Linked DNA regions of Homo sapiens. The protein of the gene in region 1 purifies or fractionates together with the protein of each later gene. This does not show direct contact. Each region holds a gene or a part of one and is shown on either strand. Other genes may lie near its edges.

What was found. Proteins that work in one complex are often made in the same cells at the same time.
Region 2: the proteins of TECPR1 (region 1) and COL18A1 purify together in Homo sapiens (affinity purification with mass spectrometry; one large-scale study listed by BioGRID and IntAct). This does not show direct contact.

The regions. Positions count from the first base shown.
Region 1 is NC_000007.14:98,249,433-98,253,662, reverse strand, and holds the start of TECPR1 (tectonin beta-propeller repeat-containing protein 1), read left to right. Parts: upstream 1-1,430; 5' UTR 1,431-1,537; intron 1,538-2,114; 5' UTR 2,115-2,269; intron 2,270-4,230. UniProt on the Homo sapiens protein: Tethering factor involved in autophagy.
Region 2 is NC_000021.9:45,464,165-45,467,664, forward strand, and holds part of COL18A1 (collagen alpha-1(XVIII) chain isoform 4 preproprotein), read left to right. Parts: intron 1-3,500. UniProt on the Homo sapiens protein: Probably plays a major role in determining the retinal structure as well as in the closure of the neural tube.

The DNA.
Region 1 (4,230 bases):
GGCTCTGCCCACATCTCCAGACCAAGTCCACAAATGCCAGTCCCTCAGGCCCAAGCTAAAGTCAGGGTCAGACACAGGACTCCACAGAGCCATCCGGGGTGAACAAGAGGCTTCTGGGGGCGTTTTCTTCCACTGGAGCTGGCCTGTGTGGGGCTTCCCCAAACATGAAGGCCCAGGAAAAGCCTGTGTGCAACCCCAGAAATGAGACAGAACTAGAGGGGGAGCAGGAATAGGTCCCTAGGTCCAACCAGGTGACATTGGTTTAGCTCAATGTCGGGTAGTATCTAGCCTTCCATCAGATGCCCTTTTTTTTCTTTTTTGAGAAGGAGTTTTGCTCTTGTCGCCCAGGCTGTAGTGCGGTGGCACAGTGGCACGATCTCAGCTCACTGCAACCTCCACCTCCCCAGTTCAAGCGATTTTCCTGCCTCAGTCTCCCGAGTAGCTGAGATTACAGGCATGCGCCACCACCCCTGGCTAATTTTGCATTTTTACTAGAGACGGGGTTTCACCATCTTGGCCAGGCTGGTCTCAAACCCCTGACCTCAAGTGATCCGCCCGCCTTGGCCTCCCAAAGTGCTGGGATTACAGGTATGAACCGCCGCACCTGGCCGACATCTTTCTTTTTTCTCCTTTCTCCATCCTAACCTTGCCAGTTTTCTGCCAGGCGGGATACAGTGTTTTCAAATCCCAGTTCCATCGCTTACAACGTGAGTCGCTCCATCTCTGAGCCCGTGTTCGCATTTGTAAAATGGGAATGACGCCGCCAGCTCTTTGGGTTGCTGGGAGGATGAAATGAGAAGACCCAAGTAAAGCACTTACGTCAGTGCCCGCCACCCCGGGAGGACTCGCATATTACTATTAATATATTAGGCCAGCTTACACTGGGTTTTGTCACTGACAATAGAGTTTGAGCAATCCAGGGCCTGTTACTGACACCACACCATGCTATAGTCACAAAATCACATATGCTTCCAGGACTCCTCCTCGAAAGAGTAAAGCTTTAAGTGTAGTGTGTGCTCAAGGGCTACGTTTCAGTTCGATGGATACCAGGAAGACACCTGTTCCCTGCGTCCTCTCCACGCCCCAGGCCGGGCGCCCACACCCTGCTCCTCCTGACGCCGCACAGCCACGCACCCAGGTACCCTCTCCGCCACCCCTTCTCCTCGCCTGCAGGCGGTGTCCACACCGCCCTCTCCGCTCCTGCAGACCGGGTCCTGGAGGGCGGCCGGGCGGTCCACGGGCCGGTGTCGCGCCGCCAGAGAGAACGCGGCAACTCGCTTCAGCCGACTCTGGACTCCTGACCTGGCGCGACCCCGGAAGTGGGCGGGCGCGCGACCTCGAAGCCAGCACCGACGCGGCGCACCGCAGCCAATCGCACGTCCCAGGTCGCAGCGTCCTGGCGAGGCTGGCCAATGGGCACGGGGCCTGATGCCGCTTCCGGCCCACCCTCTTGCCCGGTCCCCGGGAGGGCCGGTCCGCTCCTCCCGGACGCCGAGGACCTACCACCGCGACTTCGCCCCGCCCGGCGCGGGCCCAGGTGAGTGCAGAGTGGCGCCCCAGCTGCAGCGGCGGCCAGGGCCGTGGGAAAGAATGGGGCGATGAAGGGCTGGGCACGCCGCCTTCCCCACCACCCCCAGGCTGTTTGCTCGCGGGGAGGGAGGAAGGAGGGACCGCACTTGTCATCTCGCCTGCACACCTGGAAGGTGCCGCCCCCGTCCCCTGCCCTGGAACGCCCACAGGCTAGCGAAGTTGCCTGGTGCAGGTGACGCCCCCATTCCAGCCTTTGGACTGGAGCCATAGGAGAAGCGGATCGCGGGATCCTGGTTGTTTTCGAGAATCACGCAGCAAGGGGCCTGCCTATCCCTCTCCCTGGGTATTGATGGGAGCAAATCTGCTTGTCGTAAGATTAGCTTTGGCAGATGGTCAGGGCCCAGAGCTCCGACATATGCTACTGGTGGCAGTGCAGGGGCCCCACCTGTCACCCAAGTGCACAGCACTGGGCTGAACGCCAGGCTGACTCAGGACACCTCCTGCCCGGTGGGGCTGGGCGGACCCTATTCTTCAGGAAAGAATCAACTACCATGCAAGTTCTGCTGCTTTTTCCCACCTTTTAGGACCCTGATGTCGCTTTTGAACAGCCCCTGCACCTGGCAGCCAGCGAGCTACTGTAGTAGGCATTGCCGACTGTTTGCATACCGGATGGGAGTGACAGTGTAATAGAAAAACAAGCAAGAAACCTTTTAGGTAGGACTCCTAAGGCTCAGAGGAAGTAAGTGCTTGCGGAGCGTTCTTTGTACTGTGTCTTTTCCTCTACCACATCTCTGTCCCCGCCTCTCTTGGGTGCTTTTTTTGGTCTCTGAAAGGATCTGTGAATAAACTGAGACAGAAAGGCAGATGGCTTTGAGGGTGGCGAGCAGACCTTCTTCGTGGAAAGACTGAAGGTTCAACTCAAATTCATCTTGTAGAAATTCTTGGTGAATTCGAGGCTGCTGATTTGGAAGATTTTCCTCCATCCCTCTAACCCTACAAAACAAACAAGTCCCAGGATCCCTGAATCATGGGGCTTCATGTTCCAACCCCCCTTTCAAGAGTCCTCTGACCCAGTGACCCTGTGTAAGTTGCCTGATCAGCTCACAGCCAGAAAGTGGCCCATGAGGAGCTAGGGGGAGCCTCTTGGCAGAGGCAGAAAGAAAGTGTGGCTGACCAAGGATGGTTACCGGATGTCAACTGTAGCTAGGAAGTGACGACAGGTGCCTGGGTCTCTACTCTGAAGGGAGTTTGTAAATACAGCAACCCCCCACCCCTCCCTTTCACTGTAGCAGAGTCTTCTCCCATTAACTGCCCAGAAGATTCAATGATGTCTATGAGGAAATTAGTGCTTAGTCATTTATTTGAAGGAAAGTCAAAATCTCCTTTCATTGAGCTCAACCTGCAGACTGAGTCTAGCTAAACTGCTTGCTTATCCAGTGAATTCTGAGCTATCTTTGTTTTGTTGTTGTTGTTGTTGTTGTTTGTTTTCCTTTTTGAGACAGGGTCTCGCTCTGCTGCCCAGGCTGGAGTGCAGTGGCACAATCATAGCTCACTGTAGCCTCAAACTCCTGGGCTCAAGTGATCCTCCTGCCTCAGCCTCCCAAGTAGCTAGGATCACAGGCATGTGCCACCACACCTGGCTAATTTTTTTTTTAACTTTTTATTTTTACAGAGATGGGGTCTCCCTGTGTTGCTTAGGCTGGTTTTGAACTCCTCGGCTCAAGCGATCCTCCCACCTCAGCCCCGGAAAGGGCTGGGATTACAGGCATGAGCTACTGCACCTGGCCTCTGAGCTATCTTTGAAGGCTAACTTATATTTAACACTATAGAAAGTGACAATTAAAAAAAAAAACCTTCGTCTTCCCCTAGCATTTTATTGAGGATTTTCCCACATACAGCCAAGTTGAAAGAATTATACAGTCAGCATCCCCATCCCCACCAACTAGATTCTACTATTGACACTTTACTTGCTTTATCACATATCTGTCCACCAATTATGACCTTACTTTTCAAGTTATTTGTGGCATTTGTTTTCCCTGGAGAAGTATTTCTGTCTTAGATCAGGGAGTTGGCAGTGTGTTGGAGGTAGGTGGTGGTGATTATCCTTAAATGTTGTTTCAACACCCACTGTGTGCAGAGACTATTATGGAAATGAAGAGGCTGAAGACTCAGACCTGAAAGGGACTTGGTTTTTTGTTTTTCTTTTTTTTTTTTTGAGATGGAGTCTTGCTGTGTTGGCCAGGCTGGAGTGTGGTGACACGATCTTGGCTCACTACAATCTCCTCCTACCAGGTTCAAGCGATTCTCCTGCCTCAGCCTCCCAAGCCGGCTAATTTTTGTAGTTTTAGTAGAGACGGGTTTCACCGTGTTGGCCAGGCTGGTCTCAAACTCCTGGCCTCAAGCAATCTGCCCGCCTTGGCCTCCCAAAGTGTTGGGATTACAGGCATGAGCCACCACGCCCAGCCCTATTCTGCCTTTTATAGATTAGGAAATTAAGGCACAGAGAGGTTAGTTAGCTTTTGGTGGTACAAGAAAGTGAGGATCCCAGAATGCAGCATTCTGAGATCCAGGCAGCTCTGGACTCTCTTAGTCACTGTGAAGGTGCCAGAGGGACCCTCAGTCCTGATCAGTGAGGCACGAAGGGGTCACCAGGGGTCCCAGCTCAGTTTCAGATGGTTCCAGAAAGCTGGTGTTCTGATT
Region 2 (3,500 bases), on another chromosome or scaffold:
GTAGCACAGTGCCCAGGCACTGGGGCAGAGGTGGATCCCGTAGTCCCTCGGTGGGAGCTCCAAAGCCTCCCGTTTTCATCTCTTCCTCTTCCCAGGATGGGATTTTGGGGATGAGATCTTCCTGGTGGGCTGGAGTCTGTCCCAGAAGTCAACAGCCCAACCTGGGGCCAAAAAAGACCCTCTTAGATAAGGCAGGCCCTCGGCAAGACTCCAGCCACACATGAGAGGGTGGAACAGAGCTCCTGAGTCCCACTAACCACGGCCACCTGCAGTGGTCAGGTGGGGGCACCGTGTCCATCCCCCCATGGGTTTGTGCCAATTTGCATATAGGTATGTAGCTTCCTATTGGCGACTGTAAGAAATTGCCACAAATTCAGTGGCTTAAACCAACACAGCTGTCTTACCTTTCAGTTTTGGAGGTCAGAGTCTGAAACCAGTTCACTGGGCTGAAACCAAGGTGTTGTCAGGGCTGGGTCCCTCTGGGACTCTGGAGGAGAATCTGTTTTCTTGACTTTTCCAGCCTCTAGAGGCTGCCGCTTCCCTTCGCTCAAAGCCCCTTCTTCCCCCTTCAAAGCCAACGGTGTTGGACAAGTCCTCATGGTGCCATCTTTTGTCCTTCGATTTTAAGGCTTTGTGTGGTTAGAAGTGGATCATCTCCCATCTCCAGGTCCACAGCCTGAGTCCCAGCTGCAGCATCCCCTTGCCACGTAAAATTACGCTTGTGGGTTCCAGCTGTTGTGCCGTGGACATCCTTGGGGCCATGGCTCTGCCCACCACAGTTTGTCCATGTGCACGGCTGCACATGTGTACATATGCATGGGAGTCTTACTTTGCATTAATGGGATTGCCCTGTGTCTGAAAGTTCCTCTTTCCTTTATCCTGCATCTCAGGAGTCTCCATAACTCCAGGGAGATGCTCTGCTCTTCGTGTTGTTCTGGTCTTTTCCTCAGCCCTTCCTGACTGAAGCACTCGCAGGTATTTCTGCTTCTCTGTATAACAGATGACCCTGCAGACACCTGCTCAGCCCCGACTGGCGGGTTCATCGCACAGCCTCGCCTTTGTTTATCAGACACCAGCTGAGCCACCCCACCTGTGCCTGGCGTGGGTTTTGGGTCAGCGCTGACGGTGGAGAGATTGAATGTTGTAAACGTGTCCGAGTGTCAACAGGAAGTCTCCACCCGGGGACAGGGGCCCGTTTCTTAGGTTGTTTTTAGCCTTCCGTGGGGGCTCTGCAGCCTTGGGATTTGGTGGAGGTGTTTGTTCTGAGGCCGTTTTTCTTTGATGCCAAGATGTCCCCCCGGGCACTTCACTGCGTAAGTGCTATGGTGTGATGGAGTGATGATGGTGGCGCACTCTTCAAGCTCTGGATCAGGTTCCGGAAGCTCTGTGTGAGTCTTACTGAGGTGGTTATTTTCTCTTTTCCCTGGAAAGTGGGCTGAGAGCACTCCATGTGGGCACGAGCGGCCCTGGCTCTGCAGGACTGGAGGGGGCTGTGCTGGAGGGCGGGGGGCTGGCCAGGCAGCCTTGGATCTTGTCCTCAGGAGCCCTTCAAAGGGGCAGCAGAGACTCCAGGCCCTGTGCCCCGAGGAGTCAGGCTGGGCTGGTTCTGGGGAGTGTCTGGAGCACCTGATGCTGAGCACAGGCGGGCGTCCGTGGAGTGCACGTGTCTGAGGGTCTCTGAGGGGTTTGCCCTTTTCTTCGGAGCCACGGTGGCCGTGAGGGATGCAGGACATTGGGTGTGGCCCTCGAGGACTGGCCTGTCTGGAGCCCACTCCCCCGTGGGTGAACGCGGCTCTTGGTGGAGAGCCCAGTTTGGGGAGAAGGGACGGTCTTGTCCTGGGAGGTGTCAGACAAAGCCGAGCATGGGACTCACAGGAGACCCCCAGTCAGGCCGTGTCAGGGTGAGGCTGGGAGTGAGGGTCCTGGAAAGTCCGGCTTCTGGGAGAGGGCGCTTTGGCTCAGAGGCTGCCACTGCAGAAGGGATGGACGTCCCCGGTCCCCTAAGATAAGGGACCCAAGGGGAGGGGCGGGGACGTTCCACACTGGTGTGAGAACAGCGGAGAGTCCCAGCCAGAGGTACCCGCTGCTCTCCTGCGGGGAGGATGCTGGCTGCACTGTCTGTCCTGGGCATATTTAAAGGGGCCTCTGTTAACACACACAGGCCTCCAGAACCATCCACACTTCTGGCTGGCCTGATTCCTGAGGGGGAAATGGTCTTTAAAGAAGCAAGCACCTTGATCCAAAGGGAGGTGGTCCAGCAGGAGGGGCCGCCCCACCATACCCAGGAAGGTTGAGCTCTCGCACCCGGGAAGGCTGAGCTCTCGCACCCGGGAAGGCTGAGCTCTCGAAATGGGGTTCAGGCATTTGCTGTTTGATTCCAGGACATCTGAGACAGCTGGGCCTGTACCTCGGGGAGTGGAGGCTGCGCCATTCTCTGCCCATCCAGCATCTTAGGGCCGGGCATTTGGAAGCTGGCTTCTGAAGGGAGCCCCCAGGAGCTTCGTGGAGAGGAGACGGGACAGCTTTGGAAAGGGCGTTGCTGTCACTGGGGTCCCTGGGGCCGCCGGTGTAGCGTGCTGGTACCCTCCAGCCCAGGAAGGTGGCAGCTGCCGCATCTTGCTTTCCCAATGACGGAATGTTCTAGGAAGGGTGGTGGGAGGTTTCTCCAAGGTGAACGCGGGGGCAGCTGGGTGGCTGGCACGGCCTCTGGCCCCCAGGCCGAGTCCTGTTTCCTGATCTTATCACAGCCCCAGCTTGGACATGTGGGACCAGGCACTTCTTATGAGAAAAAGGATCATTGTAACAGCTGCCATCTGGATGGACGATCATTGTAACAGCTGCCATCTGGGTGGACGGCGGCCTCTGTCTGAGGGGGATGTGACCGCTGGCCCCCAGAGCCCAGGCTCAGCCCGTTGGGACCCCTCTGCCCCTGGCCCAGACTGTGGCTGCAAAGCCCGGGCTCTGCCTGGCACGGCAGGTGTGCTGGGAAGTCACTCTGAGCAGGGTCTGCCCTTGAGTGGGTGCTGCCCCCCTCCCGTGGGCAGGAAACGAGGTGTGAGAACTCTGGGCACCGGGGCTGCGTCCTGGCTTGGGCTCCCTGGGCGAGGGATGGACAGGGCTCCTTCTGACCCTGGGCTACTGAGTCGAAGTGAAGTCAAGCTCCGCCTGGGCAGGAATGAGTGGAGTGAGTCACCCGGCGCTGTGGGGCATTTGCACGGAGCAGCGGGGCTGGTGGGGAGACTGTGGCACGTTGGCAGGTACGTCAGGCATGCAGCCCCTCCAAGGGGTGATTGTGGCCCCGAGGGGAATCAGCATGGGGGGGATGGGGAGATACAGCTTGTCCTTGCCACATGAAGCACCTGGCCCAGCAGGTGAGCCGGTGACCGACAGCGCTGGGTGAAATCCCGCACCGTGTCCTCAGATGCCACGTGGAACCCCAGCTGAGGCAGCCACTCTGGGCGACGCCCCGTAGCCGAGGCTTCGAAGAACACTGGGGTGTG